3 linked regions of the Homo sapiens genome follow. The protein of the gene in region 1 interacts with the protein of each later gene in a biochemical or structural test. Each region holds a gene or a part of one and is shown in the gene's direction. Other genes may lie near its edges. The genes, in order: ZNF599, GRIP2 and CARD11.

Region 1 (2,975 bases):
TTAAAAAGATTGTAATGAACACCTACAAACCTTTCGCCAAGTACAAGAACATGACCTGCTTCCTGCATCTGTTGATGTGTTTCTTTCCTTTCCCATTCCTATGCTGCCTCCCTTGCATACATGGCCACTTTAAGATTTGTTATTCCATTGCTTATTCTGTAGGAAGATTCAGGTTTTTTTCATAAATATAGGCTATTCAGATGTTCTGTTTTTGTTTGTCCGTTTTGGTAATTTGAGTAATGTAAAATATTTGCCTACTTTATCTTTGTCTTCCCATTACTTTTTAAGATTGTTTCATCTCATAATGGTAAATTTTGTATTTTATCACAATAAAAAGTCAGAAAAATATATTTAACATATCTACATATCTTTTTATAATGCCATTTAAAACTGATAAACCTCAAAAAAATAAAAGGTTGTTACATTGTATTCTTGTGTGTGTGTATTTTGCTTTTTTTGAACATTATAAAAAGTGTATTGTGGTTTATATTGTCTTCTGGCATTTTCACTCTTTATTCAACAGTAAGTTACTAACATTCATGATGCATATAGCTGTAGTTCACTCATTTTTTTTCCTGCTAGAGTCAATTGCATGAATATAACACAATGTATTTATCCATTTTCAGGGAGAGCTTGAAAATGTTTGCTTATTGTTTTTTGTTATCACAAACAATGCTGCCATAATTCATATATATGTGTCCTCAGGCACATCTATAGGAGTTTCTCTTAGTAAAGTTCCTTGGACTGGCATTTCTGGATTATAAGATGAGCAAAAGGAGAATTTTACTAGATAATGCTCTGTTGTTTCCTAAAATGGTTATACCCATTTCACTTCCCTTGCCTTATCTGAATGATTTCATAGAACAACTTCCTCTTCAATAGTTGATGTTGTCCGGTCCTTTAGTTTTTTCAACCTAGCGAGTATAAAATGGGGCATCTCATTGTGGTCCTAATTTGTTTTTCCCCTATTACCAAGAAAGGTGAACACTTCTTATGTTGACTGGGCAATGTATGTCTTCTGTGAAATATCAGTGCATAATATGTTCATTTTGGGGTAGAGTGAAGTTCCCAACCATAATTCTGAGTTTATTTCTCCTTTCAACTCAGTTTTTGGTTCATGTATTTTGAGGCTCTGGTGTTTGGCACATACAGATTTAAGACGATTTTGTCTTCCTGGCGCCATGGTCTTCTCTTCATCTTGTGAAGTCCCTCTTTGTCTCATTTGCTTAGGTCTATAGTTTGCTATCTGATACTAATGTTATGTTTTTTATTTGTTTGCTTTTTTGTTTATTATATTTACTCTAGTCAAATTGACTACTCTTTTCATTTATGATTAATGCTTTTATATCTTGTTCTGGAAATCTTTCTCAAAAGATACTCATTTTTATTATATACAAAATATGTTTAATGTTTAGCTTCTGACAGTTGAGTCTTAATCACTCTGGAGGTAATTCTGTATGTGGTATGAGGTAGGAATATTATTTCATTTTTCTCCATGTGGCAAATAATTTTTCTAGATCCATTTATTGAATGGTTCCTCCTTTTCCCAATGGCCTTCTCTGCTGCTTCTATCATATATCAAAGTTACATATATACATTTCTGAGTTCTCTATTTCATTTTTCCCTTTCACCGTTTGTCTTATATCTATGCCTAATCACACTGCCTGAATGCATATAGTTTCATCATAATACTAAGTCCTCATAGGGTAAGGCCCCTGCTTTATTCTTCAGAGTTATCCTGGTCTCTATATCAGCTGACTGATCTCTATCCACAGTCAGCTTGTCAATATCTGTGAAAAACCCTATTGAGATTTTATCTGATGTTGTATTGAATTTAGAAGTGAATTTAGGGAGAACTGATAACTTTATATTGATTAATCTCTTTTCATATAGATCTTTAGTGTCTTAAGTTTTACAATTTTCTTCATGTAGATCTTACCTATTTTGTGTATGTTCACTTAGTCTTTATTCAGACATTGCAGACTCATTATGTTCATCTAGCTGGTTCTCACCCTTCTCACTTTTACACAGGTGAGAATCCTGAGAGTCTGTTTCTTCTCTGTCTCTGCCTGCCTTTCCATCCTCATCTCCATCATGTCATCCCATTTACATTACTCAGCAATCAGCATTCTCTCAAGACTTTCAGCCCTTGTACATTCTGTTTTCATCTGCCGAAGTTTCCCTCCTAATTCCTCTGTCTGGGAACTCCTACTCTCCTTTTTAAAGAAAGCCCACGTAGCTCACCTTTTCTTGGTGCTGTGATCCAAGACATCCTCTGATCCCTCTCTGTCTCTCATCTGGGCCATGTTAAGTGTATCCTCCCTACATTGTCATAGCACCATGAGACTGCCTCTGTCAGAGCACATTCATCACACACATTGTAATTATTAGTCTGCCCACTCTCCCTCATTTGGGAGAGTGAGGAGCGGTCTCCATTCCAGATTCTTTGCCCCCTGCCCTTGCTTTTCCTTCTGGGTTTCCTTTTAAAGATCTCAAGAGTCCAAGCATTAGGAAAGAAATTGCAAGCCTGGTTTTGAGAGATGTAAAAATGCAGTAGGCATCAGAGACACTGTTTTCACCTTCATTCTTCTGCTAAAGTGGTGATTTTGTTTGTTCTGTTGACATCACTAATGTTCAGTTTTTTTTATATTGGATTTCCTTCAGGTGAAAAAGCAAAACCCAAGATTACAGAGCCTACTGCTTCTCAGCTGGCCTTCTCTGAGGAATCCTCTTTCCAGGAACTTCTGGCACAGAGATCCTCAAGAGATTCCAGGTTGGGGCAAGCTAGAGATGAGGAAAAGCTAATAAAAATTCAGGAAGGGAACTTGAGGCCAGGAACAAACCCCCACAAAGAGATATGCCCTGAGAAGTTGAGTTATAAACATGATGATTTGGAGCCAGATGATAGTCTGGGCTTAAGGGTTTTACAGGAACGAGTCACTCCACAAGATGCTCTCCATGAGTGTGACTCTCAA
Region 2 (3,522 bases), on another chromosome or scaffold:
GACCCACCAAGGCCCCCTTGGGGACCTGCCCACGCTGTCTCCTGGAGGCCTGCCTCCCTTACCCCTCCCCTCCACTTCGCTGGGCTCTGCCCCTTGGTGCCCTCCCTGAGGGCCCTGCATGCTTGTGCCTGGGGTGCTCAGCGCCTCTGCTATCTTGGATTCCCGTGTACTCAGCCCAGAGTGAAAGGGCACTGTCTACCTGTCACAGGGCACCAAGTGAAAGCCAAGAGCCCTCACTTTTGAGGGTGAGGGACAGCACAGCAGAGGTGTGGCTTCTGGATGCAAGCAGCCATAGCTGTGTGACCTTGGACAGGTGGCTCAGCCTCTCTGGACCTCTGCTAAGCAACAGGGCTGGACAGGACACACTCTCAGGGCCTCTCGGCTTGGGAAAACTGCATTGACTCCAGGACTCCAGGCGAGGGAAGATGCACCCGACTCTAACTAATACCCCCCTCCCTCCTCGGGCTGAGGCCTCTGCCATTCTCCCAAAAGTATGCAATCAGGCCCGCGGTGGGCCTCCCAGCCATGCCGGCCTCCTCATATGCAATATTTCTTCTGGCTTCTCATGGGGATGGTTCATCCCCGACTTGAAATTTCCTGACACCTTTCCCCAGTGAGCGCCCTGCCTGCCTATGCATTTTGGGAACAGCCCCTGTGACATGTCCCCTTCCACCTGCCCTCTCCCCCAAAGCTGTATTTTTCTCTGGCTGAGATTAGAACACATTCCTTGTAAAGTATTTTTCTACATCGGGTTTTCTTAGGGCTCTCGGGAAGCACAAGGGGCTGTATTGCAAAGGCCGCTTATGGTCTGTTTGGGGCCCTCGTCTAAGTCTTTGTCCCACCAGGGGTTGCAGTGGCTTGGGGGTAGGTGCCATGGGGATGATTTTTTAAAATAAAATTATTTAAATCCACCTAGAGTAGAAGTTTGCTTTTTAAAAAAATCATGGATTGGCAAGAGTCAGCTTCTGTATGGGTCTGGTGACATCTCACCTGCTTTTGATGATTCATTAATTCAAAAAGTTTGCCATTTGCTTCCATCATCCAGCCCCTGGGCAACATGAATCAGACAGATTTAGGTCATGTCTGCACATTCTGGTGGCAGGCAGACAATCAACAAGTAAGCAAATAAATAATTATTTCAAAAGGCATCAAGTGCAACAAAGAAAACAAGGGAGTAACGGGATAGAGGGACCAGGGTGAGGGGCTTTAGCTCACAATATTAGGAGGGGTTTCTCTCAAGAGGCGACATTTGCAATGAGACCTGAAGACAGGAGCCAGCCTCCATGGAGACCTGGAGGAAGAGTGTCTCAGGCAGCGGGCACAGCTAGTGCAAAGGCCCTGAGATAGGAACGAGTTTGACGGTCTCAAGGAAGAGAAAGAAGGCCTGGGAGGGGAATGGGGCTGGAGACTAGGTTGGAGGTAGCAGGAATCAGTCGTGAAGGCTTGGGTAGGGGGAGCAAATTTGATTCTCTGCGCAGCAGAAAGCCAGAGGCAGGCAGTGGTGCCTGCATATGGAGTCTCTTTAGCCCAGGTTGGGAAGGTAGTGGCAGGAGGGCAGCCTCAGGTCTGGCTGCTGCCCTGGAGTGTCCAGAGAGTGTCTAGGGCAGGTGAGCTACAGGGTCTGGGACCCAGAGGCCAGGGCCAGGCCCCACTGGGGAGGCCACAGTTCTGTGAGCAGAGGAAGAGCTTCTTTCCAGGAAGCGAGTACTCTGTCTTGGGAGTGGTGTAGGCAGGGGGAAGGCCAAGGGAGGCAGCAGGCCTTGCTCTAAGCGCTTTGCAAGAGCTTGCTGGATCCTCCCAATAGCCTTTGGAGGTGGGCTCTATTCCTGTCCCATCATTACAGATGAGGAAACAGGCACAGAGAGGTTACGTAATTTGCCCAAGTCCACACAGGTAGTAAGGGATGGAACCAGGGCTTGAACACAAGCCACATGGCCCAGTACACATAGAGAGAGGCAGGCAGGTAGGCATAGGCTGTCAGAAAGAGCCAGAAAATGGGGGTAGGGTGGTCTTCTATTCTAACATTGTCTATAAATGAGTTACTGAGAATTTTGTCTGGTTAGTTGGGCAAAGGGCTCAACTGACTCCCGAGTTTGTCCATCCCAAAGGGTGGGGGGCGCTGTTGGCAGGAAGGCTGCCCCAAACATGGACCTGTTGTGACCCCAGAGAGCCCCTAACTGGGTATTAATGAGCGCCTGCACCTGACGGTGGGGGAGTGGGAGAAGGGCAATCAGGTTTGCTCCCCCTCTACCCTTTCCCCCACTCCGCCACCCGCTTTCTGCCCTTCTGGCAGGTCAGCCCAAGGCTAAAGAGGAGGGACTGAAAGCCGCAGCAGGTGAGCACCTAAGGCCAAGAGCATCACCTCCAATCATCCTGGTGGCCTTGATGGGGACAATGGTTTATTCCAGATGGGGAAACTGAGGCTCAGGTGACTGCTGCCAGATCTCCCAGCTGTACAGGGCTGGGCATGTAGCAGGTAGAATCAGTAGAGCCAGTAGAGCCAAGAGCTCATGGGCCCGGGTGCGAATCCAGGTTCTTTCATGGACTTGCTGTGTACCCCTGAGTGAGCAAGCTGCTTCCTCTGTGAGCCTCCATGTGGGAACCTCTAACCTGGGAAAATACCTACCTTTGAGGAGCGTCCTGGGATTGGACGGGAAGCCCTTTATAAAATGTAAAGCGTTTGGCAAACGTTGAGGGGGAAATACCTCACCAGAACACAACCCACACATGTTGGATGTTAAAAAGGAAATGTTTATTTTCATGTTATAAGGTGATTACAAACTCCTCTAAAAAAAGCAAAGATGAATTTAAAATATTGATATACATATTTATCTAAAAAGCAAAAGAGAAAAAAACCCCTGCAAAATACAGGGAATCATATCATAAAACATTTATACACAAAAGCTTGTATACTGCAAGACTGAACTACACACCAAGGATCTTGTTCAAATACAAATGTTCCTCCTCAGAAAAGTCTCTTGTTGGTTGATTTTTTTTTTATAAAAGTTTAAAATATCTTAAAAATATTTTGAAGTTTTAAAAAAATGTCCTGATGAGCCAGACATATTTCTGGAAGGAGGCAAGACCCACATTCTCAGCTTTCTCTTGTGCTAAATACAGAGTCACAGTTGCTAGGGATTGGGAGATTAATTGGGTAAAAAAAAAAAATGAAGCCAACATCTCAATTTGAAGTCAAATATATAACAGGATGCTCCATCCCTCGGAGAACACGCCAGAACATGTCTGTAGTGACACCCACAAGAGAACAATGCAAAAATGCTTCCTATTACAACAATATATATTCTGAGGATCAGGGAGAGAAGGAAAGGGGGAGGGCTGCCCCCTGCTTTCTGGACTGCCCACCTCTACAAGTTTGGCTCTCTGGGTTTGTTTTGTTTAGTCTTGTGGTTTTGTACTTCGATTTTTGCACACAGTGGTATTTACCGTGTCCCAGGCAGCCTGGCCTGGGACCACATGGGTCTGAGGGAGGGATGGGACCTCAGGCCACCTTGAAGGATTTTC
Region 3 (3,654 bases), on another chromosome or scaffold:
CGGGCGCAGTGGCTCACGCCTGTAATCCCAGCACTTTGGGAGGCCGAGGCGGGCAGATCACAAGGTCAGGAGATCGAGACCATCCTGTGAATGGTGAAACCCCGTCTCTACTAAAAATACAAAAAGTTAGCCGGGCGCGGTGGCGGGCGCCTGTAGTCCCAGCTACACTGGAGGCTGAGGCGGAAGAATGGCGTGAACCTGGGAGGTGGAGCTTGCAGTGAGCCGAGATCCCGCCACTGCACTCCAGCCTGGGTGACAGAGCGAGACTCCGTCTCAGAAAAAAAAATAAAATAAAATAAATAAATAAATATATATATATATAACTATAAAATATATAAAAACATTAAAATAAAAACATAAAGCATTAAAAATAAATCTTAAAATATGTAAATAGCTAGGCATGGTGTCACGTGCCTATGGTCCCAGCCACTTGGGAGGCTGAGGTGGGAGGATCACTTGAGCAGGAGTTTGAGGCTGCAGTGAACCAAGATAACATCACTGCAGTCACTCTGGCCTGGGCCATACAGCAAGACTCCTAGCTCTAAAAATAAAAATAAAAGACAAAAAGAAATTAAAACGGTGAGGGAGCCTGGCCTTGGCTGTGAGGACCATGCTGCCTCGGGGTGACATCCCGCCAAGCTCACCCAATAACGACGCTCTCGTGTGGTTGCTTCGCTCCCGGGTACCCGTGTTAATTGGGGCTGTTTGCTGTGAAGTGTTCGTTTTATTGATTTCTCTACCCACTGAGTGCCACTTGCCATTTATCAACCCGGCGAGGGGCCTCCCGGTCCACCGTCCCCCACCCCGCTGGCCCTGGCTGGCCCTGCTCAGGGAAAGGGAAGCCACACAGCCCTGGCTGGATCTCAAAGGAGGCCTTGGGGCGGCTTCCCGGGCTGGCCCTTTGGACGTTGGAGTGGCCAGGCCAGGGTACAAGAAAAGGCACAAGGGACAAGGGACAGGCTGCCCGTTTCTGGGAGCTGTTTCCTCGGGCTGCCTGGGGGTGGCTTCATCAGAACCCCGGGCTTCTGTGTGGCTCTGCCACTCCAGCCACAGAGGGACTGAGAAAGCAGAACTGAGGCCAAGTCGTCCCTCCCAGTGCTCCTGGGAGACACCCAAGGCCTTGGCCGCTGGTCCTGGTGTCTCGTGGGTGCCTGCCGGCACTTGCTTTCCTTGCCCTCGCCCTCCCCTCCGCTGGGCTGTACCCAGTCCCTACCCTTCCTCCAAGAAGCCCTCCTTGATCGTCTGACAAGGCAAACTTTCCCTCCAGAGCTCAGCCAAGGTTCCTGCATTTGTCACACACTCTGCCTGCCCCCCACCACACCTCCCCTCCCTGGCACACAAGCCCCAAGCAGTGCCAGCCCGAGGTGACCTCAGACACTGGATGCCCGGGGCAGCAGCCAGGCCTTCACACTGACGGTGGCTTCCAGGACCCAGCCCAGGGGCCCCGTCCTCCGTGGAAGGTCTTCGGAGCCCCAGGGGTCTGACCGCCACCCTCTCCTGCCCCTGCCAGAGCTGGACCCTGAGAGCGAGCTGGGCAAGAACCTCAGCCTCATCCCCTACAGCCTGGTACGCGCCTTCTACTGCGAGCGCCGCCGGCCCGTGCTCTTCACACCCACCGTGCTGGCCAAGACGCTGGTGCAGAGGCTGCTCAACTCGGGAGGTGCCATGGAGTTCACCATCTGCAAGTCAGGTGAGCGGCGAGCCACGGCCACCTGGGGAGCCCCGCGGGAGCCATGAACCAGGACGACTTCCCCTCTTCTCTTCCCTCCTCCCCTCTTCTCTTCCCTCCTCCCCTCTTCTCTTCCCTCTTTCCTCCTCTTCCCTCTTTCCTTTCCTTCCTCCTCCCTTCTCCCTCTTCTCTTCTCCCTCCTCCAACTTCTCACTCCTCCCCTCCCCCTCCTCACTTCCCTCCTCCCCTTTCCTCCCCTCCTTTTCTTCTTCCTCATCCTCCCCTCCCTCCTCCCTCTTCTTCCCTCCTCCTCCTCCCCATCACCCCTCCTCCCCCTGGATAGGTGGATGGATGGATGGAAGGATGGCTGAATGGATGATGGGTGACTGGGTGGGTGGACAGATTGATAGATAAATGGGTGGGTGGATGGATGGATGGAAGGATGGGTGGGTGGATGGGTGAGTGGGTGGATGGATTGGTGGATGGATGGATGGATGGATGGATGGATGGATGGATGGATGGATAGGTGGGTGGATGGATGGATGAGTGGATGGATGGATGGATGGATGGATGGATGGATGGATGGATAAGGGGATGGGTGGATGGGTGGATAGGTAGGTGGACAGATGGGTGGGTGGGTGAGGGGTCGGTAGATGGGTGGGTGGATGGATGGGTAGGTGGGTGGGTGGGTGGAACAGGAGATTTATTTAGACTGGTGATCAGCCTTGCACCACGGTGCCTGAGCTGCTTTGTCCAGTGAAAGGTATTGCTGAGGTGCCAAGCACCTGCTCTATGGGCTGCCATGGGGAGTATGGAGAAGGTTAACCTTAGCCCTGCCCTCAAGGAGCTTCACAGTCTAGTCGAGGGGAGACGAGATTCATTTAAACATGGCTGGAAGGGGATCGGACATCGAGTTCTGTAGAGCCCAGAAGGTGGCAGGCAGGGCCTGAGTGGGATGGTCAACCCAAGGCCACCTCGTGCTGCCCTCAGGACTGGCCCCTCTCTCTGCAGATATCGTCACAAGAGATGAGTTCCTCAGAAGGCAGAAGACGGAGACCATCATCTACTCCCGAGAGAAGAACCCCAACGCGTTCGAATGCATCGCCCCTGCCAACATTGAAGCTGTGGCCGCCAAGGTGAGGCGGGGACTGGGAGGTTGGATGGGGCCAGGACCCTCCGTGATGATCCTCATGAGGCCACCTGGGCCAGGGACAAGGGTGGGATGAAGAGTTGTTTTCACCTCCCCGTGGCCAGACCTCTCCTTTTCCCCTTGTCCCAGCAGCTGCCCCGTGTTAACTCCCTCTCTGCACCCTTGTTCCCTGGGCTCTGAAGTGAGTTTTTATTTTGGAGCTTTCTATTTGTGTTGGCTTCCTGGAGCTGGTGTGTGTTCGCATTATTTAGGAGTGTGTGTGTCTGGTTGTGATAACAAGGGCCAGAGATAGAGAACGAGCTCATCAGGGCGAGAGACAGGATGAACATGAAGGTGACAGGTATTGCATTCACCAAACGAGGGGAAAACGGGGCATCACAAGGGTTATTGGCAACGATGCAAAAAGGTTGTCTGTGTGCAATGTGGAGTCTTTGGAGCCAGACAATGTGACCTAAGCGTTGAGCTCTTCCTCGTCCCAGCACTGGATGAAGAAAAGGCTCTCTGTCCGCGTCACTGGAGGGCTCCCCCAGCTGCCGGGGGCTGGCTCCGTGGTGGACGCTGACCTTGGGGATGGCAAGAGCAGATGGTGGTGTTTTTGTTTTTTTTAAGTCTGGGCCACAGCAGTTTAGGAAATTCTGATAGCTGGCGTGGATAGAAAGTGAGCAGACAGGGTTGGAGCTGAGATTGTTTTTAGCTGAAAAGAAGAAGCCTTCCAGCAGATCTGTGCTGTAGAAATGTGGGCCATGGTCCTATTGGTGGGGAATGGGGAGCAGTGGCCCCGCAGGAGGCCCAAGGAGACCCTGGGCGAGGGGGGTCATTCCCACCTCCAGACACG

Evidence for each region.
Region 2: the proteins of ZNF599 (region 1) and GRIP2 interact in a test that uses a peptide from one of them, tested with the Homo sapiens proteins (one large-scale study listed by IntAct).
Region 3: the proteins of ZNF599 (region 1) and CARD11 interact in a test that uses a peptide from one of them, tested with the Homo sapiens proteins (one large-scale study listed by IntAct).

Annotation. Positions count from the first base shown.
Region 1 is NC_000019.10:34,760,249-34,763,223, reverse strand, and holds part of ZNF599 (zinc finger protein 599), read left to right. Parts: intron 1-2,664; coding exon 2,665-2,975. UniProt on the Homo sapiens protein: May be involved in transcriptional regulation.
Region 2 is NC_000003.12:14,488,558-14,492,079, reverse strand, and holds the end of GRIP2 (glutamate receptor-interacting protein 2), read left to right. Parts: 3' UTR 1-2,973; downstream 2,974-3,522.
Region 3 is NC_000007.14:2,911,323-2,914,976, reverse strand, and holds part of CARD11 (caspase recruitment domain-containing protein 11), read left to right. Parts: intron 1-1,510; coding exon 1,511-1,690; intron 1,691-2,680; coding exon 2,681-2,805; intron 2,806-3,654. UniProt on the Homo sapiens protein: Adapter protein that plays a key role in adaptive immune response by transducing the activation of NF-kappa-B downstream of T-cell receptor (TCR) and B-cell receptor (BCR) engagement.